2 separate regions of the Homo sapiens genome follow, and region 2 is linked to region 1. Evidence: fine-mapped expression QTL. Tissue or cell type: whole blood. Region 1 holds a variant in brackets; the other region holds the start of a gene. All regions are shown on one strand. Distances are between the middles of the regions.

Region 1 (8,102 bases):
AAAGGTTGGCGGTGACATGGTATTAGAGCCCAAGCCCGTTTATACAGAGGTCTGTGACCTCTGTCAGCAAGAAGAGTCAGGAAGGAAAAATACTCAAACTGTAAAAGGGAATCTTTTTTTTTTTTTTTTTTTTGAGGTGGAGTCTCTCTGTCGCCCAGGCTAGAGTGCAATGGCAAGATCTCGGCTCACTGCAACCACCGCCTTCCAGGTTCAAGCGATTCTCCCGCCTCAACCTCCCAAGCAGCTGGAATTACAGGCGCCTGCCACCACGCCCGGCTAATTTTTGTATTTTTAGTAGAGAGGGGGTTTCCCATGTTGGCCAGTCTGGTCTCGAACTCCTGACCTCAGATGATCCACCTGCCTCGGACTCCCAAAGTGCTGAGATTACAGGCGTGAGCCACCGCGCCCAGCCCAAAGGGAAATTTTTTGTTTGGTTGGTTGGTTGGTTGGTTTTTTTGTTTTTTTGTTTTTTTTGTGTTTTTTTTTTGAGATGGAGTCTTGCTCTGTCGCCCAGGCTGGAGTGCAGTGGCGCGATCTTGGATTGCTGCAAGCTCCACCTTCCGGGTTCACGCCATTCTCCTGCCTCAGCCTCCCGAGTAGCTGGGACTACAGGCGCCTGCCTCCGTGCCCGGCTAATTTTTTGTATTTTTACTGGAGACGGGGTTTCACTGTGTTAGCCAGGATGGTCTCGATCTCCTGACCTTGTGATCCTCCCGCCTCGGCCTCCCAAAGTGCTGGGATTACAGGCTTGAGCCACGTGCCCGGCCCCAAAGGGAAGTTTTAAAACAACAATTTTAAGAACCCCTTCACAAAAGTCATCTCTGGAATGGTCCAGGAGAGAAGCTGGGAAATTCTTAACATACAAACAAACAAAAGCCCTTTTGCATGCACAACTCTGTTCTGGGAACAGAGTCCTCAAGCAGAAAAGGATCATAAAAGACTTCAGGTATAGGCTGGGTGCAGTGGCTCATGCCTGTGAACCTAACACTTTGAGAGGCTGAGGCGGGAGGATTGCTTCAGCCTGGGAGGTTGAGGCTGCAGTGAGCTATCATTGCACACTCCAGCCTGGGTGACACAGTGAGACCCTGACTCAAAAAAAAAAAAAAAAAAAAGAACTTAAGATATATTCAGTGCCTTCAGGCAGGCAAATCTCTAAGCATACCTTATTTTTCTCTTGCCAAAGAATTTAATCAATATTTTATCACACCAACACCTCAAAATGCCCTATCGTAATTTCTCCTGCTCTGAATTTAAGTCTTTTTTCTTTTTTTCTTTTTCTTTTTCTTTTTTTTTTTTTTTTTTTGAGACAGAGTTTTGCTCTGTTGCCCAGGCTGGAGTGCAGTGGCATGATTTCGGCTTACCACGGCCTCTGCCTCCCAGGTTCAAGCAATTCTCCTGCCTCAGCCTCCCTATTTTTTTTGCTTTCCATAGAGAAGGAGAAGGAGAGCACCTGCTTATGAAGCACACATTTTTAAAATCTCCTCATAATAGTGAAGACATTAATTGGAAGAAAATTTGTTATGGAGAATGGTCTGAGAAAAAAATAATTGGAAGTAAAAAACCCACTTCTCCCTTTAACTATTTCCTCCTAAGCAAGTCTCCCGTCTTGGCCATACTTCATAGGACCTATGTCCTCCTTCTCCCTGTTCTCTAAAAATCTGTGTACTCCATTATCCTTTTTAAAATGCTAGGCAAATCAGGTAAGACCCTCGGATAAGGAATTGCTAATACAGTACACAGCAGAAAGCTTACTCCCCAGCCCTTACATGGAACCTCCTTTTGTTCATTTTTCTCTCTGGGACACCCATTGCAAGTTGCCTTCAGCTTGCAGAGATGTAACCTTGAGAGCTACTCCTGGGATACTTGTGCTTCTCTAGCCTTTTCCAGTCTAAATTTGTGCTGTTGAATTTTTGTACTTATTTGATGTATTGCCAAGCATTTAGTCTTTTTTTTTTTTTTTTTTCGTATTTTGTAAGATCCTGGGCTTATTAGAACTGCCACCTTGGCTCAGCCCATGGTCCATTCAGCCAGAATTGTTTCTTTGACAGCAGAATTAGAAAATACATTTTAAAGGAGCTTGATTGTTTTCCCTGATGCAAGCATCAGAAGTTAAAGTCCCTTCCGAGTGGCCTAGATTTCCTTAATCATGCATTGTATCTGTGTTTGTTAAATTTAAATTTTAATTTTTTTTTGAGACAGAGTCTCCCTCTGTCGCCCAGGCTGGAGTGCAGTGGTGCAATCTTGGCTCACTGCAAGCTCCGCCTCCCAGGTTCAAGCCATTCTCCTGCCTCAGCCTCCCGAGTAGCTGGGACTACAGGCGCCCACCACCACGCCCGCCTAATTTTTGTATTTTTAGTAGAGACGGGGTTTCACTTTGTTCGCCAGGATGGTCTTGGTTTCCTGACCTCGTGATCCACCCGCCTCGGCCTCCCAAAGTGTTGGGATTACAGGCGCGAGCCACCATGCCTGGCCAAATTTTAATGTTTTTAAACTTATGATGTTTTAATGTTTTTAAATTTTAATGTTTTTAAACTTATGAGTTTGAATGTTTTTAAACTTACTGATGTCTCTTAGAAGTAATAATTTACATAAATTTACTATTAACTATGTATTTTTTTCTTTCATTCATCCTTAATTGACTTTTTCTAAGATTCAAACTCCCCCATTTCTAGTTCTTGAATTCTAAGATTTGGGGAGGGGAAAAATCCCTGTTCACTTTGTCTAATACCAGCCCCCCACAGACCAAACAACTTTGGAAGAAGATGAGCAGTGTCTTTCTGTCTGTTTCTTTCTTTCTTTTTTTTTTTTTTTTTTCTGAGGTAGAGTTTCACTCTTGTTGCCCAGGCTGGAGTGCAATGGCATTATCTCAGCTCACTGCAAACTCCGCCTCCTGGGTTCAAGTGATTCTCCTGCCTCAGCCTCCTGAGTAGCTGGGATTACAGACATGTAGCACCACGCCCGGATAATTTTTTTTTATTTTTAGTAGAGACATGTTTCACCATGTTGGCCAGGATGGTCTCGAACTCCCGACCTCAAGTGATCTGCCTGCCTCGGCCTCCCAAAGTGTTGAGATTACAGGCGTCAGCCACTGCGCCCGGCCCTGTCTATTTCTTTGCCCTAAAGGGACACAAGGGAACAAGCACCTGAACTGGCAGGAGGTAGTAGAATGGGTTTCAGGAAGAACTTCTGAAAAGAAAGATGAGCTGATTATCCGGTTAGTAACTCAGTTCCTCAGCTCTCTTAAGTCCTAGATGAAAAGAATAAGTAGGCCGGTCGCGGTGGCTCACGCCTGTAATCCCAGCACTTTGGGAGGCTGAGGCGGGCAGATCACGAGGTCAAGAGATCGAAACCATCCTGGCCAACATGGTCAAAACCCCATCTCTACTAAAAACACAAAAATGAGCTGGGGATGGTGGTGTGCACCTGTAGTCCCAGCTACTTGAGAGGCTGAGGCAGGAGAATTGCTTGAACTCAGGAGGTGGAGGTTGCAGTGAGCCGAGATCCCGCCACTGCACTCCAGCCTGGTGACAGAGCGAGACTCCGTCTCAAAAAAAAAAAAAAAAAAAAGAATAAGTAGGCCGGGAATGGTAGCTCATGCTTGTAATCCCAACACTTTGGGAGGCCAAGGTAGGCAGATAACCTGAGGCCAGGAGTTCAAGACCAGCCTGGCCAACATGGTGAAACCCCGCCTCTACTAAAAATACAAAAATTAGTCAGGCGTGGTGGTGCACTCCTGTAATCCCAGCTACTTGGTTGGCTGAGGCAGGAGAATCGCTTGAACCTGGGAGGCAGAGGTTGCAGTGAGCTGAGATCACGCCACTGCACTCCAGCCTGGGTGACACTGCTAGACTCCATCTCAAAAAAAGAGAAAGAAGGAAGGAAGGAAGGAAGGAAGGGGAAGGGCTGTGGTTTATGATCTTCAGAAAAGTTGAGATCCTGGCCAAGGAAAGGGGATGGTGATTGGCCCATTATTAACAAGAGCTGATTTTTTTGTTCATGAGATGGGTTTTTTGTTTGTTTGTTTGTTTTTCTTTTCTTTTCTTTTTTTTTTTTTTTTTTGAGACAGAGTCTAGCTCTGTTGCCCAGGCTGAAGTGTAGTAGTGCAATCTCAACTCACTGCAACTTCCGCCTCCCTGTTTCAAGTGTTTCTGCTGCCTCAGCCTCCTGAGTAGCTGGGGCTGCAGGCGCCCGCCACCATGCCCGACAAATTTTTTGTATTATTAGTAGAGACGGGGTTTCACCATGTTGGCCAGGCTGATCTCAAACTCTTGGCCTCAAGTGATCTGCCCACTTTGACCTCCCAAAGTGTTGGGATTACAGGCGTGAGCCACTGTACCCGGTCTCATGAGATGTTAAGAATTATTTGATGATTTAGACGTGGACACAGTAGTTATATACCTCAAAAGAGGGATCTCCTCTGTAAATCTTCTAATTTCCCTTACTAATTATGAATACCCATTAACTATTTTAACCCCTTTTTGTGTAACCTCTGTTTATATCTTTTGCCTTTTCCACCTAAACTTATTTAAGCTTAAGTGAAGTTTTGTTTGCTCTACATTGACCTCCTCTTAAATTGTACATTCCCAGCTTCTGTATTTGGAGCATAAGTCTGTATCTACTCTTTCCATTATTTCTGTGACTTTATAGATTCATCATGTTATTCCTCAAACATCATCTTTCTAGATCCAGCACTGAGGTAAAACTCAGAGGGGAGGGATGTAGAAGAGAGCAGAGGAAATTTAACAGAAAATTCTGGGGAGCTTTTCCAAATACAATGTGTCTGCTTCCCCCCTTCCCTGAGC[G/A]TATCAGAATCTTGGCTGGGGAAATGTGTTGTTGCTGTTGTTTTCAAGAGATAGGGTCTCCCTCTGTCACTCAGGCATTGGAGTACAGGGGCTCACTGCTGCCTTGAACACTGGGGCTCAAGAGATCCTCCCACCTCAGCCTCTTAAAATGCTGGGATTACAGGTGTGAGCCACCATGCCTGACTGAAATTTCAGTCTGACTGAAAGTTTTTGAGAACTTTCACATCTAATTCTAATGGTCAACTCTCTCTATCCCGTCATAGCCATTGTTCTGAACTGAAGGGCTCTTCAGTTCTTGGGGTCTTTTGGTTTTGTCATCATGAGGCACTTCCTTCATTTCCGTGTTAGCTCATACCTGACATTCTGATGGAATCAACTTTTCCATTCGGTGTGTAACCAACAGTAGATGGGGATTACAACAGAAGTTTGAAATCTAGGCCACGCACGGTGGCTCACACCTGTAATCCCAGCTTTTTGAGAGGCTGAGGCTGGCATATCACGAGGTCAGGAGTTCGAGACCAGCCTGGCCAACATGGTGAAACCCCGTCTCTACTAAAACAAAAATTAGCCAGGCATGGTGGTGCATGCCTGTAGTCCCAGCTACTCGTGAGGCTGAGGCAGGAGAATTGCTTGCACCTGGGAGGCGGAAGTTGCAATGAGCCGAGATTGCACCACTGCACTCCAGCCTGGGTGACAGAGCGAGACTCTGTCTCAAAAAAAAAAAAAAAGCTTGCAATCTTAAAAAGTAAGTTGGAGTCCAGGTGCAGTGGTTCATGCCTGTAATCCCAGCACTTTGGGAGGCTGAGGCAGATGGATCACTTGAGCCCAAGAGTTGGAGACAACCCTGGGCAACATGGCAAAACCCCATCTCTACAAAAAATACAAAAGTTATTTGGATGTGGTGGCACACACCTGTGGTCACAGTTACTTGGGAGGCTGAGACAAGAGGATTGCTTGAGCCAGGGAGAAGGAGGTTGCAGTGAGCTGAGATTGTGCCACTGCACTCCAACCTGGGTGACAGTGAGAGACTCTGTCTCAAAAAACAAACAAAAAATAGGTTGTTACTTAACTATGGATCCCAGAGAACTATTAGACCGTTCCTGATGCAAATCCACCTCATCCAACAGCTTTTTCTTGACTTTTCTTCCAGCAGCTTGCGCTAAATGAATTCATCAAGTGACTGAAGACAACCAGTGATGGACGGGGTGAATGATAGCTCCTTGCAGGGCTTTGTTCTGATGGGCATATCAGACCATCCCCAGCTGGAGATGATCTTTTTTATAGCCATCCTCTTCTCCTATTTGCTGACCCTACTTGGGAACTCAACCATCATCTTGCTTTCCCGCCTGGAGGCCCGGCTCCATACACCCATGTACTTCTTCCTCAGCAACCTCTCCTCCTTGGACCTTGCTTTCGCTACTAGTTCAGTCCCCCAAATGCTGATCAATTTATGGGGACCAGGCAAGACCATCAGCTATGGTGGCTGCATAACCCAGCTCTATGTCTTCCTTTGGCTGGGGGCCACCGAGTGCATCCTGCTGGTGGTGATGGCATTTGACCGCTACGTGGCAGTGTGCCGGCCCCTCCGCTACACCGCCATCATGAACCCCCAGCTCTGCTGGCTGCTGGCTGTGATTGCCTGCCTGGGTGGCTTGGGCAACTCTGTGATCCAGTCAACATTCACTCTGCAGCTCCCATTGTGTGGGCACCGGAGGGTGGAGGGATTCCTCTGCGAGGTGCCTGCCATGATCAAACTGGCCTGTGGCGACACAAGTCTCAACCAGGCTGTGCTCAATGGTGTCTGCACCTTCTTCACTGCAGTCCCACTAAGCATCATCGTGATCTCCTACTGCCTCATTGCTCAGGCAGTGCTGAAAATCCGCTCTGCAGAGGGGAGGCGAAAGGCGTTCAATACGTGCCTCTCCCATCTGCTGGTGGTGTTCCTCTTCTATGGCTCAGCCAGCTATGGGTATCTGCTTCCGGCCAAGAACAGCAAACAGGACCAGGGCAAGTTCATTTCCCTGTTCTACTCGTTGGTCACACCCATGGTGAATCCCCTCATCTACACGCTGCGGAACATGGAAGTGAAGGGCGCACTGAGGAGGTTGCTGGGGAAAGGAAGAGAAGTTGGCTGAGAGAACACTCCTTCGTTATTTATTGCGTCTTCATCTCTACATGCGTTTCTCATTAACTCTCTCTGGCCAGGTGAACATGAGGAATACTAATTCCGGTAAAACCAAGGCATGTTCCTGACAGCCCTAAGCTGACAGCCCTAAGCTGTTGGGAACATGGTTAGTGTTATTCGTAATGTTCTACACTTATTTACCAAAAATCCTACTGTGGACTACCGATAGCAGGGGAGACATGTTGTTGAGGGCTCAGAGGTTATTGACCTGTGACAGACCTGTCTCACTGTCTCTGTCTCTGTTGCCCACATGTTATTTAATATGCCTTATATTTCTGCAGAATTCTGTACTTTTCTAAGCAAAGCACCTCCACTTGCAGTATCTTACATAATGTTACTATAATTCCATAAAATCAAGCCATGTATTATTAACTTCATATGAAGACCCAAACAATTCATGTTTTTACCCTATCTGTCATTATCTTTGCCTACCTCTTTTTGTCTCTTCTTCATTTTTTTTAAGAGTTGGAGTCTTGCTCTGTTGCCCAGGCTGAAGTAGAGTGGCATGATCTTAGCTCACTGCAGCCTTCAACTCCTGGGCTCAAGCAATCCTTCAGTCTTCTGAGTAGCTGGGACTATAGGCACATGCTACCACACCTAACTAATTTTTATTTTTATTTTTTACAGATGGGGTCTCACTCTGTTAACAGCCCAGGCTGGTCTAGAATTCTTGGCCTCAAGTAATCTTCCTGCCTTGACTTCCCCAAGTGCTGGGATTATGGGTGTGATCTACCGCACCTGGCCTGTCTCTTCTTAATAATGCAGTATACCACTGGGTGCAGTGGCTCACACCTGTAATCCCAGCACTTTGGGAGGCCGAGGCGGGTGGATCACCTGAGGTCAGGAGTTCGGGACCAGCCTGACCAACATGGAGAAACACTGTCTCCACTAAAAATACAAAATTAGCCTTGCATCGTGGCACATGCCTGTAATCCCAGCTACTCGGGAGGCTGAGGCAGGAGAATCGCTTGAACTCGGGAGGCAGAGGTTGTGGTGAGCTGAGATCGTGCCATTGCACTCCAGCCTGGGTAACGAGCAAAACTCCGTCTCAATAATAATAATAATAACAATAATAATAATGTAGTATATCTGTCCATACTTTCCATCCATATATC
Region 2 (8,102 bases), 90 kb before region 1:
CAAGATTCCGTATTTAAAAAAAAAAAAAGTCTTTCACAATTAGCTTAACTTCTAAGGGAGTATCAGTCCCGTGCCCCTAAACCATCATGATAAAGGAGGTATATAGTATTTACTTATTTATTTACTTGATTTATTTTGAGACAGAGTCTCACTCTTATCACCTGGGCTGGAGTGCAGTGGCAAGATCATGGCCCACTGCAACCTCCGCCTCCCGGGTTCAAGCGATTCTCCTGCCTCTGCCTCCCGAGTAGCTGGCATTACAGGTGCCCGCCATTACACCCAGCTAATTTTTTGTATTTTTAGTAGAGACGGGGTTTCACCATGTTGGCCAGGCTGGTCTTGAACTCCTGACCTTGTGATTCGCCCGCCTCAGCCTCCCAAAGTTCTGGGATTACAGGCGTGCGCCACCGTGACCAGCCAACTATTTTTTCATAGATGATGAAATGTAGGCTTACAGGTAGGGTGACCAACACATTTTGTCTAGGAGCAAAACCCAATTTGCCCAGTCTTAGCACTGAAAGCCTAGTTCTGGGAACGACCACAGTCCGGGGAAATTGGGACAATTGCCCACCCTGTTTAGATGGGTTAATTGACATACTGAACACATGTCTAGCTAGGAAGAGGCACCACAGGGCCATTCATTTACTCTTGGAGCACCTGCTGTATGCCAGATGCTATTCTAGGTACTACTGATACAGAACTGAACAGAAAAAAACTTCTTGCAGTGCTCACATTCTTTTTTTTCTGATATAAATGCCCTTCAGAAGAGGCCACATTCTTTTTTTTTTTTCGAGATGGAATTTCACTCAGTCGCCCAGGCTGGAGGGCAGTAGCGCAATCTCGCCACTGCAACCTCTGCCTCCAGTGTTTGAGCGATCCTCCTGCCTCAGCGTCCCAAGTAGTTGGGATTATAGGTACCGACAACCACGCCTGGCTAATTTTTGTATTTTTAGTAGAGACGGGGTTTCACCATGTTGGCCAGGCTGGTCTTAAACTCCCGGCCTCAAGTGATTTACCCACCTCGGCCTCCCAAAGTGCTGGGATTACAGGCGTGAGCTGCTGCGCCTGGCTCAGAAGATCCCGCATTTTTTTTTTTTTGACGGAGTCTAGCTATATTGCCCAGGCTGGAGTGCAGTGGTGCTATCTCAGCTCACTGCAAGCTCCACCTCCCGGGTTCACGCCATCCTCCTGCCTCAGCCTCCCGAGTAGCTGGAACTACAGGCGCCTGCCACCACGCCCGGCTAATTTTTGTATTTTTAGTAGAGACGGGGTTTCACCGTGTTAGCCAGGATGGTCTCGATCTCCTGACCTTGTGATCTGCCCACCTCGGCCTCCCAAAGTGCTGGGATTACAGGCATGAGCCACTGCGCCCAGCCAAGAGCCCACATTCTTATAGGAAAGTGTGAATTGATATAAACAAACAAATACACAATGTATCAGGGAGTGATAAGTTGGGGGAAAAAACAGCAGAATAATAGGGTTAGTGAGTGCAGGGGATTGGTTTCATATTTTTTTATTTTTATTTATTTATTTAGAGACAGAGTCTCACTCTGTCACCCAGGCTGGAGTGCAGTGGTGCTATCTTGGCTCACTGCAACTTCTGCCTCCCGGGTTCAAGCAATTCTCCTGCCTCAGCCTCCCAAGTAGTTGGGATTACAGGCTCACACCACCATGCCAGGCTAATTTTTGTATTTTTAGTAAAGACGGGGTTTCACCATGTTGGCCAGGCCAGTCTCAAACAACTGACCTCAAGTGATCCAACCGCCTTGGCCTCCCAAAGTGCTGTGATTACAGGCATGAGCCACCGTGCCCCCTGGTTTCATATTTTAATAGGGCACTTGAAGAAGGCTTTTGTGCTTGAACAGAGACCCAAAGGAAGAGGAGTAAGCCAGGTATTCATTTTGAGGATGAGCAGTCTTTGCCTATTTACAGAGTGCAAAAGGGGTAACTTTGTGCTTAGTGTTTGAGGAAGAGTGGTGGCTGGAGCAGAGGCACGGAGGAGGAGTGGATGGAGGGGTTAGAGAGGGAGCTGGAGTCCCCTATCAAGTAGCAGGGCTCCCAGGACACAGCAAGGACTTGGCTCTTACTCTGAGATGAGGGGACACTGGAAAGTTTGAGCAGAGCAGTGACATAATTGGAGTTACGCTTTAAAAGAAACATTCTGGGCCGGGCGCGGTGGCTCACACATATAATCCAGCACTTTGGGAAGCCAAGGAAGGTGGATCACCTGAGGTCAGAAGTTCGAGATAAGCCTGGCCAACATGGTGAAAGCCCGTCTCTACTGAAAATACAAAAATTTGCTGAGTGTGGTGGTGATGTGCGCGTAGTCCCAGCTACTCTGGAGGCTGAGGTGAATCACCTGAACCTGGGAGGCGGAGGTTGCAGTGACCTGTGATCGCACCACTGTACTCTGGCCTGGGTGAAAGAGTGAGACTGTTTCAAAAAAAGAAAGAAAAGAAAAGAGAACACTCTGGCTTCCATAAGAGACAAGAGATGAGAAAGGTGGAAACAGAGAGGAGAAAGCAATCTATTGTCACAATGCAGGAAAGCGACTGCAGGGCCCTGAACCACTGTGGAGGCAGAAGGGTCAGATTCTGGGTGATTCTGAAAGCAGGGCTGACATGATAAGGGTAGACTGGATACTGGCGGGTGTGAAGATGCATCTAAGATACCTGTTTCTGGCCAGATTTTACAAAGGGCCCTTGTTGCTACCTTAAGGAGTTAGTGTTGAATCCTGCAGCAGCTAAGAGCTTCTGCAGGATCTCCCTCTCAACTTGGACCAACCCACCTGCCGATCCCAGCCCAGATCAATGAGATCTGCTGCCCAGTCCCCTACGCAGATAACACTAATTGTAACTGATCTTTCTGAGGGCACCTCCTGAGCAGCTTGGAAACGGAGGGAGAGGAGAGGAAGCCAGCTTCCCAAAGTGGGGTGTGGCAGGTGGCCTTAACCCTGCTGAAGGGCTGCAGTCATGGGGCTCTGAATAGATCCCCACACCACTCACCAATGAGCTTCATTTGGAAGGCGGTAACGTTAAACAAGAGGGTTTGTAAAAAATAAAGGCCTACACACATAATTTTTTCTGATTATTAAATCTAGGTGGAGAGTACGTGAGTATTCATGTTACTCTCTCAACTTTCTTGTGCTTAAAAATCTTAAAATAAAAACTTTAATACGCTCTGTCCTACCAATATTTATAGGAACCTGACTAGCAGCCAGGCTTTGGACACGCAATCCCCGGCCACCAAAGGGCTGACAGGCTAGTGAAAGGGGCAGAAAAATAACAAAACTGTGTCTGGAAGGCAGCTACTCCCTTTTTTTGTTTGTTTGTTTTTTGAGACGCAGTCTCACTCTGTCGCCCATGCTGGAGTGCAGTGGCGCGATCTTAGCTCACTACATGTGCCTCCGGGGTTCAAGCGATTCTCCTGCCTCAGCCTCCTGAGTAGCTGGGACTACAGGCGCGCGCCACCACGCCCGGCTAATTTTTGTATTTTTTAGTAGAGACAGGGTTTCACCATATTGGTCAGGCTGGTCTCGAACTCCTGACCTCGCGATCCGACCGCCTCGGCCTCCCAAAGTGGTGGGATTACAGGCGTGAGCCACCGCGCCCGGCCCTTTGTTTTCTTACCAACTAAGCAGCAGCACTGACACTGTTTCCTTTGAGGTTCCGTTTGCTGAATCCTGCCCTCTAAGGTGCTCCGCCCTTCCACTCCCCGCCCCGTGCTGCTGTCATTCCCACGCCTCACCCTGTTTTGCAACTTCTTGTTTATGAGCCTGGAAGCCACGAAGTGGTGGGAAATACGAGATTCAAATATCTGGTGGCCGTGTGACGTGAGTAAATTACTCGATTTTTCTCAGTTTCCATTTCCTATCAAATGGGTTGTTCTGGGAATTCGGGGAAGTAACAGTGCCGGGAACCGCGGGAGGAACCGCCAGCTGCGTCCTCGGACGTCCCCAAAGCCCAGGGCGGCGACTGGCACGACTGTCAGGGGCGCGTCTGTTAAGAGGACAGGGGGTCCCGCCCCGGCACAGCCGTCTCCTCCAGGACCCCTCCCGCCGACGCCCCACGGACCCCACGCCCGAGCGGAGACCGGCGCGAGTCCGGGGTCTCCGGTCCGGCAGCCCCTCCCTGGCCCGGCGCCCCAAAGGGAAGCGGCCTGGGGGAGGAGACGTGTGGAAAGAGCGGCAGAAGATAAAGAGGAAGTAGCGGTAGAGAATAAAAAGGAACTGTCCGCAGTGTGCCCGGACGCGGGGAGGCGCTGGGGTCAAGCGAGACCCGACCTGCACGCAATTCCCGCCGGGGTCCCGGCCTGCCTGCGGGAGGGAAAGGACCCAGGGCGGCTTCTGCCAAAAGTGCGGCTTCTGCCGAAAGTGCGTCTTCTGCCGAGGGGCCCACATAAGGCGCGACAGACACTCCAGCCCGACCCCGACGCCCCGCCCTCACGCATGCACATGCGCGGAACACTCCCAGAAACACATCTCCCAGAGCGCCCCGGGAGCACGCGAGCCAATTGGAGGGCGGATTAGCGGGGGCCCACGTCTCCCAGAGGTCTCCGAGTCGCGGCTCTGTTGGTCTGATTGGCAGCCGCAACAGCCTATAGCTGCTTTTCGCCGGAGGGGCCACGCGCCGTTTGCCGGGACTGAGCCGCTGTTGTCGCTGGTATCCCGGGAGCAGCGCCGGCAAGTGGAGTCGTCGTATTCCGGGCGGCCCGCGGCCCACGGGGATGGGACGTCCCGGGGCTGTGCTGACCCCAAAACCCTTCCACACTTTATTAGCCTGTCGCCCTTCTTTCATGTTTACAGCAAATATTTTCCGAGTGCCTAATGTGTCCCACTTACTGTGCCACGTGCGAGGGTGCACGTGTCAGGCAAGATCGCTGTTCCAAGGAGGCTGAGAACAAGTAAATGGTAATTACCAGTTATGACCAAAGCTGTGAAAGGAACAGATACATCAGCCTAACAGCAGCACTGCCGTTTTCTCCCTTATAATCAGCAGAGGCGGGCTAGAGCAAGGATTCTCAAACTCTGCCCCCTCAGAACCCTAGAGTACGGTTGCTGAAACTTCTGTTTTTTCCTTTTGAACAAATCTAGTAACATGCTGTGAGCCAGAGAGGTAATGGTTTGGCTCAAAGAAGGCACATGCATCTGGTTTCTTTCTTCTTTTTTGAGACGGAGTCTCGCTCTGTCGTCCAGGCTGGAGTGCAGTGGCGCCATCTCCGCTCACTGCAAGCTCCGCCTCGCGAGTTCACGCCAGTCTCCTGCCTCAGCCTTCCGAGTAGCTGGGATTACAGGCGCCCGCCACCACGCCCGGCTAATTTTCACGCCCGGCTAATTTTTTGTATTTTTAGTAGAGACGGGGTTTCACCATGTTAGCCAGGATGGTCTCGCTCTCCTGACCTCGTGATCCGCCCGCTTCGGCCTCCCAAAGTGCTGGGATTACAGGCGTGAGCCACCGCGCCCGGCCCAGGTTTCTTATTTCAGGAGCTTCATAGGCATAGACCTCCCTCCTTCCCTCCTACCCCCTCCCCCCTCTCCCAACTAATGCCAGACCGGCCACTACTTTTTAACTGTTTTACATATTTAACCTTCAAGAAAGATTTCCTTTGATCCAAGTGTATTGCAGCCCACAAAAAAGCTTGGAAACCCAGCTAGATGGTCTGTTTTTCTAGTTCCTACATTGGATTTAAGTCCTACCCATCGAGACTACTGTCTTCAGGTAAGCATATCGAGGCTGTATTCACCTTCATGGTGTTCTCAGGGGCACTTTCTTACACAAATGATGGTAATCATCCTAGATCATTTCCCTGCCTGCCACACTTGCCAGTTAGTTAGAAACTGTAAACCCCTTAAATGTCTGTCACCAGGGCACTGGCTGAATAGCTGAGTAAGTTTTGGTGAATCCATTCCTTGGACTACACTGCATCCACTGAAAACAGTGCGGTGAATTTCTGTGTGCTAATGTGCAAAGATGGTTTATGTATTATTCAGTGGAAAAAGCACATTTGCACTACAGTGCAGATAGCATGATCCCATGTTTGTAAATAAGAGAAAAAAATGTTAAAATTTAAGTATCTGGAGGGAAATGCAAGAAATAAATATGACTACCTTTCAAGAGTAGAATTGGGGGTAGAAGTTGGCCTTTTCCCTCTATGTCATCTATACGTTTTATTTTTTTATTTTATTATTATTTTTTTGAGACGGAGTCTCACGCTGCTGCCCAGGCTGGAGTGCAGTGGCATGATCTGGGCTTACTGCGACCTCCGCCTCCCGGGTTCAAGCAATTTTCTGTCTCAGCCTCCTGAGTAGCTGGGATTACAAGCGCACGCCACCACGCCCGGCTAATTTTTGTATTTTTAGTTAGAGATGGGGTTTCACCATGTTGGTCAGGCTGGTCTCGAACTTCTGACCTTGTGTTCTGCCCGCCTCAGCCTCCCAAAGTGCTCAGATTACAGGCGTGAACCAGTATGCCCGGCGTTCAATGAGCATTTTTAAAGTTTTATGACTCATGAAACATAGTCCACAAATATATGCTCATTGTGAAATAGTAACGGAAAATAAAATATGGCAAGCTAAATGTTAGAGGAGAAATTTCTTATTTTGCTCCATTACTTTTACAGCAGAAAAATTAAAAAATTTATTAGCTGAGACTTTGTTTCACTGGGGTGCAGAAGATTAAACAAATGATTTTTAAAAGCAGACTCTGCCCATAGAGAAAAAATATTCGAGGTTTCCAAAGTAGAATAAGTTTAAATTAGCAAGTCAAATAAGGAACCTTGAGCCAGTACCGAAGGAAACACGTCCCAGACCTATCTCCAAACACACACACACACACACACACACACACACACTGCAGGCATAACATTTATGCAGACAGACTGTTCTTTAGGGCATAATTGTCTCATGTCTCAATTCCTCTGAAGCTCCAGAGCAGAAACTGAAATTTTAAAAATGCAGTTGAGATAAACTGAAATGACTGACAGGCCATTTGCCAAGAAAAGCTTTGGTTCTTTGGAACAAAGACAGTGCCCATATCCCAGCCAACATCAGGTGGTATTTCTCTTTCTGTCCTGTAGAGGGCATCTTCATGTGTGGGCACCAGGGCTGCGGCTGGAACCACAGTGGACACCCCACGCTCCAAGGACAATCCTCTGCAGAAACCAGCAGCTGGAAACAATTCTTAATGCTGCAGGAAGTAGTTAGGAGAAAACGACTGTGTAAGTCAGAGCTAAAACTGGAGTTCAAAAACCACAGAAAATATTTCCAAGGCTGTCTGTGAAGTGGGGATGTCAAAATACCAAAAATTACAGCTTTGGAACTGCAGTGGATGACCTTTAATTGATGCAGTTTATAGGTGCTAAGTATTGTGTGTGCTTTACGTTGCCTCATGTGAGTGCTTCATAGCAGGGTGTGACGCTGGCCAAGTGATATACCTACCCTCTTTGTCCCTGTTTCTATCAACTGTAAAATGGGGGTTCTAGAGTTGTTGTGAAGATTAAATGAGCTAATACACACAAAGCACCAAGAACAATGCTGGATACAAGGTAATAGGTGTTTCTTCCTAGACTTCACTATCCTCATGTGAGGTGGGTATGTTTATTTATTTATTTGGGGACAGGGTCTCGCTCTATCACCCAGACTGGAGTGCAGTGTTGCAATCATGGCTTAGCTCCCTACAGCTTTTTAAATTTAATTATTTATTATTATTATTTTTTTGAGATGGAGTCTCACTCTGTCACCCAGGCTGGAGTGCAGTGGCACGATCTCTGCTTACTGCAAGCTGGGCCTCCCGGATTCACACCATTCTCCTGCCTCAGCCTCCTGAGTAGCTGGGACTACAGGCGCCTGCCACCACGCCCAGCATATTTTTGTATTTTTAGTAGAGGCGGGGTTTCACCGTGTTAGTCAGGATGGTCTCGATCTCCTGACCTTGTGATCTGCCCACCTCGGCCTCCCAAAGTGCTGGGATTACAGGCGTGAGCCACCGTGCCTGGCCTCAGCTCCCTACAGCTTTGACCTCCCCAGCTCAAGTAATGTCCCACTTCAGCCTCCCGAGTAGCTGACACTACAGGAATGCACCATCATGTATACCTGTGGTCCTAGC

Evidence for each region. PIP is the estimated chance that this variant, and not a neighbour inherited with it, causes the effect.
Region 2: LINC00921 starts here. The variant in region 1 is fine-mapped to the expression of LINC00921 in whole blood (INTERVAL, PIP above 0.99).

The regions. Positions count from the first base shown.
Region 1 is chr16:3,349,943-3,358,044 of GRCh38, forward strand. It overlaps OR2C1 (olfactory receptor family 2 subfamily C member 1), which reads left to right and starts at 5,947. Exons shown (of 1, transcript NM_012368.3): 1 at 5,947-7,364. The coding sequence starts at 5,999. The coding sequence ends at 6,937. The variant G/A (reference allele first, on the strand shown) is at 4,803.
Region 2 is chr16:3,260,052-3,268,153 of GRCh38, forward strand. It overlaps LINC00921 (long intergenic non-protein coding RNA 921), which reads left to right and starts at 3,717. Exons shown (of 2, transcript NR_033904.1): 1 at 3,717-5,717; 2 at 7,075-7,516. RefSeq lists enhancers at 3,778-3,937, 4,378-4,477, 4,628-4,697 and a silencer at 3,958-4,137.